2 separate regions of the Homo sapiens genome follow, and region 2 is linked to region 1. A link means that fine-mapping ties the variant in region 1 to the expression of a gene that starts in the linked region. Tissue or cell type: whole blood. Region 1 holds a variant in brackets; the other region holds the start of a gene. All regions are shown on one strand. Distances are from middle to middle.

Region 1 (4,391 bases):
GATAGGGACACAGATTTTTTAAATTGTTTATTCAAACTGTACAGATATGTATATTATAAAATTTATAATGTATATCATGAAAAACAAATAAATTAATTAATTAAAAAAATAAGACTAATTGCCTAGAGGGCCGGATTGTTATAGGATCCTCACTGAGGTTAGAAGGAACACTTCCTCCCACCCCAGTGAAGTGGGGTTATGTGCGTATGCAGTTCCCTTGAGAAACATGGCTGTGAAGGGAAATAGATCCTAGGGAGATAGCATGATCATAGGAAGAGGGTCAAATAATGTTTTTTTTTTAAGATGAGAGATGCTGGACTATGTTTCCTTCTGGGAATGATCCAGTAGAGAGAGAGAGAGAGAGAGAGAGAGAGAAAGGCACTAACACAAGGGAAAGGAAAGGTTGGGGTTGGGATCTAGGGTACTGAGCCTCAGAGGGTCCCTGGACCCTTAATTGTAACAGGAAGGAATGAGAAAAAGACAAATGCAAATACAGGTAACTTTACAGATTGAGTGGTGGGAAGATAAAGGCCCTGTAAAAAATTCTTGATGTTTGATGGCTTCTATTTTCTCACTGATGCATGAAGTAAGGTCATTTGCGATAGAGAAAATAGAGGGCCAGGCGCGATGGCTAAGGCCTGTAATCCCAGCACTTTGGGAGGCTGAGGTGGGAGAATGGCTGAGCCCAGGAGTTGGAGACCAACCTAGGCAACATAGTGAGACCTGTCTCTACAAAAAATTAAAAAATTAGCCAGGCATGGTGGTGCCTGCCTGTAATTCCAGCTACTTGGGAGGCTGAGGCAAGAGGATCCCTTGAGTCCAGGAGGTTGAGGCTGCAGTGAGCCATGATTGTGCCACTGCACTGCAGCCTGGGTGACAGAGCAAGACCCAGTCTCAAAAAAAAAAAAAAATTAGTCTTTTTTAGTAGCATGGTTGATAGAAATTTGTTTTTTACTATTGACAGTTTAGCAAAGTTTCAGTTTCATATAATAATAATATTTTATACATGTTTAGGACTGCTATCAAATTTGGGAAAACCCTTGTCTAGTTTCTTTCATATATGAGCTGTAAAATTTCAGGACATTTTAATTTTTTTGTAGAATGACAAATCTTCAGTACTATGATTGTTCACTGTTCATTAAACAGGGCCTTGGAAGAGACCTGTGCAAAGGAGGAGCCCTGAAGCTTAAGCTTCATTGATTTCTATGTAAATCTACCTCTGGCCTCTTTAAATTACCTCCTCCTCCAGGAAGCTTTCTCTGATTTTCCCAGGCTGAGTTTTTCCCACAGGGCTTTATTTCTGCCATTTCCCCAGTCTCTCTGAGCTTTCCCAGTCTCTCTAAGCTAGGTAGGTCTGCCTCAACTACTAGAAGGAGGGAGCTCCAGAGTACAAGGAGTCAGGACCCACTTACCCTAGAGACCGCAGTCTTCCATTAGTCTGTCAGCAAACCTTCAATTGAAGCAGTATGGCATTGTAGTCAAACATGTAGTCCTTGGAAGCAAGCAGACTGGAATTTGGCTTTTTGTATCTTCAGTGCATGGGAAAGGATTCATCCCAATCCTTGGTTTATGATATACTCTCACCATTGGTCCGGGCAGGAGCTTCATTCACTCCTAGCTCCTCTGTGTGATGTTGGGCAAGTTATTCATTGTTTGGAGTCTCAGTTTCCCCATGTGTAAACTGTGGATGATAATAACACCTACTACATCAGACCTGTGAGGTTCTGATGACATAATCCACGAAAAGGCATGCACAGGACATGGTGCCTAATGTTTAATAAATGGAGCTCTCCATGTGACTGGCACTCTATCATGAGTGTAGGATACAGTAAGGAATAACAAAGGCCTGGGCCTTGCCTTCCTGAACTCATAGTCTAGTGGGCCCCATATGGCCCAGTGCTCACCCTGATATAGCCAAGAGACTTGTGAATGATTGTTGGATCAGAAAGATTTAATCCTTTTGTCTCTATTTCTCTCTCTCCCTTTTTTTTTTTTTTTTTTTGAGACACAGTCTCACTCTGTCACCCAGGCTGGAATGCAATGGCACAGTCTCAGCTCACTGCAACCTCCGCCTCCTGGGTTCAAGCAGTTCTCCTGCCTCAGCCTCCCGAGTAGCTGGGATTACAGGTGCCCGCCACCACACCTG[G/A]CTAATTTTTGTATTTTTAGTAGAGACGGGGTTTCACCATGTTGGCCAAGCTGGTCTCGAACTCCTGACCTCGGTGATCCACCCACCTCAGCCTCCCAAAGTGCTGGGATTACAGGCATGAGCCACGGTGCCCGGCCACTATTTCTCTTTCATGTTTTTGTCTCTCTTCCTCCCAATTAGCCATCACTGTCACCACCTCTCAGACATCCCCTATCTCTGTCTCTATTTTGCTTTTTCTTGTCTCTCTGTTTACAACTGTCTGGCTGCTTCTTTTTCCTGTCTCTCCTATTCTCTTTCTCAAACTCTCTCCCCTCTCACTCTTGTTCTCTCATTCTATTAGTTATGTTGCTGGCTACCCTGTCTCCATCCTGTCTGAGTCTAACTCATGATCCTCATCTTGGTCCATGTCTCTGTCCTTATATATATGACCACATTGTTCTCTCTCATCTGTTTTTTTTTTTTTTTTTTTCTGAGACGGAGTCTCACTCTGTCACCCAAGCTGGAGTGTCGTGGTGTGATCTCAGCTCACTGCAACCTCCGCCTCCCAGGTTCAAGTGATTTTCCTGCCTCAGTCTCCTGAGTAGCTGGGATCACAGGCATGCACCACCACGCCCAGCTAATTTTTGTATTTTTAGTAGAGACGAGGTTTCACCATGTTGGCCAGGCTGGTGTCGAACTCCTGACCTCAAGTGATCTGCCTGCCTCAGCCTCCAAAAGTGCTGGGCGTGAGGCACCGCACCCTGCCTGTTTCTAAATTTCTATGTGTTCCAGAATTTCTGTCTTTTCTGTTTTCCTTTCAATTTCCCTTGGCTCCTTGGCCTCTTTTATGTATTTCCAGAAGTCTCCATCACTCTGTCCCAATTTATCCTATTTCTGGCTGTCTCTCTCAGTCCTCATCTCTGCATTGCTGCATTCATCTGTCTCTGCTCCCCGCTACCACTGTCTTTCTCTATTCTCACCTTTCTGTTCCTATCTCTGTATCTCTGTCTTCATTTTTTCCCTCTTAACATTTACATTCTTGTTTCTGTCTTTCCCTCTCTCACACACACTCCTATGTTGGTCTTCTTGCCTCCTTCTCCCTGTCTGATTCTCTCTCATTACTCTATATCCAATTTTTACCTCTATTTCTCTGTCACCATCTCTCTTGTTGGGCTGTTTTCCTCATGTGTCTGACTCTTGTCCCCATCTCTCTGTCGCTAGGTGTGCTTCATCTGCTATCTTGTCCCCAGCTCCACGTCCTTTTGTCTCTACCTGTGTCACTGACAAAGTAGTCAAGAGTATGGTCTCTGGTATTTGACTATTTATTTGGATTCCAGTCCTAGATGTGCCATTGACTTGCTGTGCCTCAGTGTCCTCATCTGTAAAATAGGGCTGATAATAGTACCTGTGCTTCATAGTGTTATTGTGAGGATTAAATGAGTTAATACATGTACACCTCTTAGAAGATGTTTCAGACAGAACACTCAAACATGTAGACTTTGACATCACTGACATTTCCCTCCCCATTGTCATCACCATCTCTGTTTCCATCTTTGTTTATCTAATCCTAGTCATTCCCCCTCCAACTACCTGGCTATTACTATTGCTTTGTTTTTCTCTCTGCCCACAATTGTTTTGTTTATAATTAATTTTATTTATTTATTTATTTATTTATTTAGAGGGAGCCTCATTCTGTTGCCCAGGCTGAAGTGCAGTGGTGCGAGCTTGGTTCACTGCAACCTCCGCCTCCTGGGTTCAAGTGATTCTCCTGCCTCAGCCTCCCAGGTAGCTGGGATTACAGACGCGCACCACCATGCCAGGCTAATTTTTTTTATTTTTAGTAGAGATGGGGTTTCACCATGTTGGCCAGGCTGGTCTTGAACTCCCGACCTCAGGCGATCTGCCCGCCTCGGCCTCCCAAAGTGCTGGGATTACGGGAGTGAGTCACCGCACCCAGCCTAATTAATTTTATTTTAAAACAATTTTTAATTGAGGCATAATATATGTACATATTTTGGGGATACATGATTTTTTTTTTTTTTTTTTGAGACGGAGTCTCGCTCTGTCACCCAGGCTGGAGTGCAGTGGCGTGATCTCGGCTCACTGCAAACTCCACCTCCCGGGTTTATGCCATTCTCCTGCCTCAGCCTCCCAAGTAGCTGGGACTACAGGCAGCCGCCACCATGACCGGCTAATTTTTTGTATTTTTTAGTAGAGACAGGGTTTCACCGTGTTAGCCAGGATGGTCTTGATCCCTGACCTTGTG
Region 2 (4,391 bases), 26 kb after region 1:
CTTTATATAAATGGTTTCATACTTTATGTGTCCTCTGCAATTTGTATTTTATCTCAGTATTGTGTTTTTGAAATTTAGCTGGGTCAATGCATGCAACATGATTCATTCTTTTTCATTATAGTATTCTGCATAGTATTCTGTCATATGGCTATACCATAATTTACTTATTCATTCTCCTGTTGGTGGAATTTTGGGCTGTTCACATTTTTTTCTCTATTACAAACAGTTCTGCAATGAACATTCTTCCACATGCTCATTGAGCAAGTGTATAAGAATTTCTCTAGGAGTTAAAGTTTAGAGGTGATCTCTATCTATCTATCTACCTATTAATCAATCATCTCCAATACTAGAACTGCTGGGTCCCAGGGTCATCTTCAGCTATTCTGGATACTTCCTAATTGTTTTCCAAAGTCGTAATAACTAGTTTCCACAAGATTTCATTGTATTTTTTCCCTTATATCTTGTGCATTTGGGATTTTGTTTAAAAAGTCCTTCCCCAGTCACAAGTCACAAAGATATTCTCCTGCATATATTAACTTCATAGTTTTACCTTTCACATTCACAGTCTACCCTCTTAGGTGGAATAAATAGAGATCCAGTTTTATATTTCTTTTCATGGAGAGCCAAATTTCCCAATGCCATCTACTAAACAGCCCATTTCCCATTTTTTGTGGTGCAGGCCTGTAAACTCACCCATTTAACAAACAGTTGTTGAAGCCTGCCTCATACCAGTCTTGTGCTGGGTGTTGTTGAAAGCTTGAAGATACATGGCCCCTGCTCTCAGGGAGTTCACCCTCCTGTGGAGACACAGTCACATAAACAACTACAGTATTGTGATAAGTGCTAGCTTAGCTGTATAGGTAAGGTGCTCTGGGTTTCTAACTCATCTGCGAAAGTCAGAGAAGGTTTCATCGAAGTGACAAGAGTTAGGTCTTAGAGAAACAGAGCAAAATTGCAAATGCAGGGGGAAAGGTGAAAGTGGTCAGGGCTGGTTTCAGGTCCAGAGGAATTTCATGTGTCTCTAGGATGAGAGGTTAGAAGCCCTCCAACGATGTAGAGAGGTAGTGAGTCCTGTTTATGTAAGGGATAAAGGGACAGATGGAGTCATTTTCAGCCCGTCTGTGCTTGAAGTGGAGAAACAAACCCACCCTCGGAGGCACAGAGTTCCACCTACTCTGTGCCCCACCCCAGGGTTTAGGCTTGAGGAAGAGGAGGGGCTGGAATTAAACCATCAAGAAGAAAACATTTGCAGACTAATATTTACTATTTTGTGGGGGAGACCTCACTTCCCAGCCAGCTCCTTGAGATGGCTTCAGAAACCCCTACTTGCCCCACTCCAGAGATATAAATTCATTCCCTTCTGCAGACGCTGCTCCGGGATTGAGGGAAGGATGGAGTAGGAGGGGAAGAAGGCAAAAGGGTGGGAGAGGCTTCTAGTGTGGGAGAGGCTTCTAGTCGTTCTGGCTCCTGCTCCAGCTCGGGTTGGGTATGGCCATAGATCTGAACGTATGCAGAAAAAGCTAGGAGTGCTCAGGGATGGTCTGGGGCTCAAGGACCCGGGAAGGTGGTTGGGAATAGCTAACCAATTCACTTCAGGTGGGGAAATACTCGGCCAGACACGTGACCCAGGCGGCCATTTTCTCACACCCTGCTGTCGCCATCTTCCAGGCAGACAAAGACACCATCCCCCACCCTTGTCTGATTCGGGCGTGGTGACTGCCTGGTTATTGAGATTTGGGAGCACGCATATTTAACCCCAGACAGATGCCCGCAGACAAAATTTTGGCTTGCAAGTAAGGTATATGGCCGCACCAGTCGACCCGCCGCTTCTTCCCGGTCATTTCCCCGTCCTCCTTCTCCCTCCTCCGCTATTTCCTTAACTACGGGGCAGGCAGGAGGCGGGGCCAGCGTGGTCGCGAAGAAGGGACGGGCGGGCGTGAGCTGTCAGTCAGAAGCTCCGCCCCCCCCCCCCCCCCCCCGCGGAGACCGCACGGTGGGCGGAGTCGGGCGCCGCCGGCCTGGGATCCGGAAGTCGGAGCCTAGCTGCGCGAGAGTTTCTGCTCGCTCAACCGAGTTGTCGTGTTGCCCTCGCTTCTCAGATCCCCGCCGGAAGTGTAAGTAAGAAACTTCTCTCCTCTTTTCTCACAATGTGCGCTCACCTAGACGGCCGGGCAGTTAGGATCGTCTATTGGATGTGAAACCAGAGATGCCCGCCAACCTGGAATAGAGAGGTAAACAGCAGGATCCCTTCCAGGGTAGAAGGGACCGGAAGAGGGGCAGGGATCGCGGCACACGTGGAGACGCGCCGAATTGCCTTTTCGCGGAGTGGAGTTTGCCGGGAGAGGGGCATTGCCCCATCCCACCTAGAAAGGTGTAGACCCGGGACACACTGTGTAGAGAGGCACAAACTTCACTTGTGTGGTGAAGCGTTGATCGTCCTCAAGATAGTGAGGCTTCATTCTGCATTCACCTTGTATAGACAGGAGTCGACCCACCAAAGGCATGGGGGACATCCACCCCAACCGTGTAGAGACATCTCCCTCCACCCAGCTGAGCAGCGCAGACTTCTCCCGACTTAAGGCACTTCCTTGGCTTGGCTCTAGACAGCCGTCTCGAGGCACCTCCTCAGGACAGACAGAGGCTTTGATGTATCTGCCCCCATACCAGCATAGAGGAGCTTAGAAACATTTAATATACAGAGGGAGGGCACCTCCTCCCCATACGCGTAGACTCAGAGCCCTCAGTATCGCTCCCCAACTCACCCGTCCCCAAAGTGGTTGCAGTTACAGGCCTCAGCTTATGGACAACTAAGCCAATTGCCCCCTCCTCTTAGGTTAGAGTGAGTCCCCATTGTGGAGAATCAGACCTGATCCCTACTTCCGTAGCCCCCGTTTTACCGAATGTGTAATTTTTCGAAGCACCCAACATGCTTCGAAGCAAACAGGAACAGACCTTAATCCATGAAGAGACAGTCAGGTCTGCCCCTTGAGGGGCCGTGGGGGTAGAGGGGCTCAGATGTGTTCCTCTCCCTTTGAGGTAGACACAGATCATCCCCCTACCTCCCCCTACCTCCCCCAAAGATTTAGAATCACTAAATGTAGCAAGGGAGATACCCCACAGGAGCAGATATGCAGGTCTCCCTCCCTGTAATGTTGAGAGGGAGTGACATCGCTGATTACCTGGCAGTTCAGTGCGTATGGTCTCTCCCCTTTACCCAAGGTAGTGGAGCTCAGATCTGTTTCTCTCCACCCAGGGTAGAATCACAGACGCCCCCACCCCCAAGTATTAGGGCTGATCTATTAATTTATAGCTGCATTGCCAGCCCCCTCCACACACCACCCATGCAGAGAACCAGAGCCCCTATTTCTTTCAGTGTTAGTGTGCCGCTGACTTCAACCAGCATAAAAGATGAAAGTTGTCACAGTCCACCTTCCATAGAAGGGTCCAGAATAGCTCACTGCAGGTAAGGTGCAGACCCGCTTATTCAAAGCTGCATAGTTGTGGAATCAGGCATATCGATCCTGTACCACAGCCCTCTCCAGGGTGAAGAGACGCAGGACCCATCCCCACAATCTAGAGATAAACAGATCTGTGATTCTTTCCCCATGCAGCAGAGATGCACACAGCCACTTTGTGGGTTTCCCCAGTTTCTCTGCACCCCAGAGTAGAGGGACAGATGGCAATCCCCCCAACCCAAATCACCAAGGTATAGACCCCAGGCATATGCAGGCACAGATTTTTACCCCCTCCTCCAAGATTTTGTACTTATCTCAATCCATATAGACACTCAGGTAAGAATCCCTGTTCTCAGGCCCCTTTTCCCCAGGGTAGACTCCTGAGATCTATTTACGCCCTTCCCCACCACCTCTCCCAGGGTAGATGAGATATAGAATCCCCTACTTGGGAAAAGAGGCACTATTATCACCCCATATAGAAATAGACCATCCTTGCATGTCCCTTTCCCCTCAGTGTGGAGGTGTTGAGCACTAGTCCCCTACCTAGAATATAACACTACAGTGTGGAGGAATAAGGACCAAAGACCCCATCTGACCCCATTTGACCCCACTGGGCTCAAAGCCCAGTGGCTTTGAGCCACTGACTCCACCCCGGATGAGGTTGAGACCTATTCCTCCCTTTGGGTAGTATGACACTGCCTTCTCTGTGTGGACTCAGCCATATGAGGCTTTAGCTCCAGCTTCTCCCAGTTTTCCTAATTATTACGCCTTCCTCATAATGTTCTTTAACATTTTACCTTTAGGGGACTTAGGAGGGGGCTTGTGGCATTGTGATTCCCAGCTGTCTTCAAATTGCTTCTTCTCCCATTCTGACAGGAAGAGAGCAAGCAGATTTGAACCTATCTGCTTTCAAGCTGGTCATCATGATGAAACTTA

Evidence for each region.
Region 2: GNL3L starts here. The variant in region 1 is fine-mapped to the expression of GNL3L in whole blood (TOPMed, PIP above 0.99).

The regions. Positions count from the first base shown.
Region 1 is chrX:54,502,656-54,507,046 of GRCh38, forward strand. No RefSeq gene overlaps it. Among named protein-coding and RNA genes, the nearest start is that of FGD1, 8.6 kb to the left of the region's middle. The variant G/A (reference allele first, on the strand shown) is at 2,147.
Region 2 is chrX:54,528,189-54,532,579 of GRCh38, forward strand. GNL3L (G protein nucleolar 3 like) reads left to right here and starts at 2,031. Exons shown (of 16, transcript NM_001184819.2): 1 at 2,031-2,231; 2 at 4,332-4,391. The coding sequence starts at 4,379. RefSeq lists enhancers at 1,432-1,952, 1,607-1,656, 2,107-2,166, 2,177-2,436.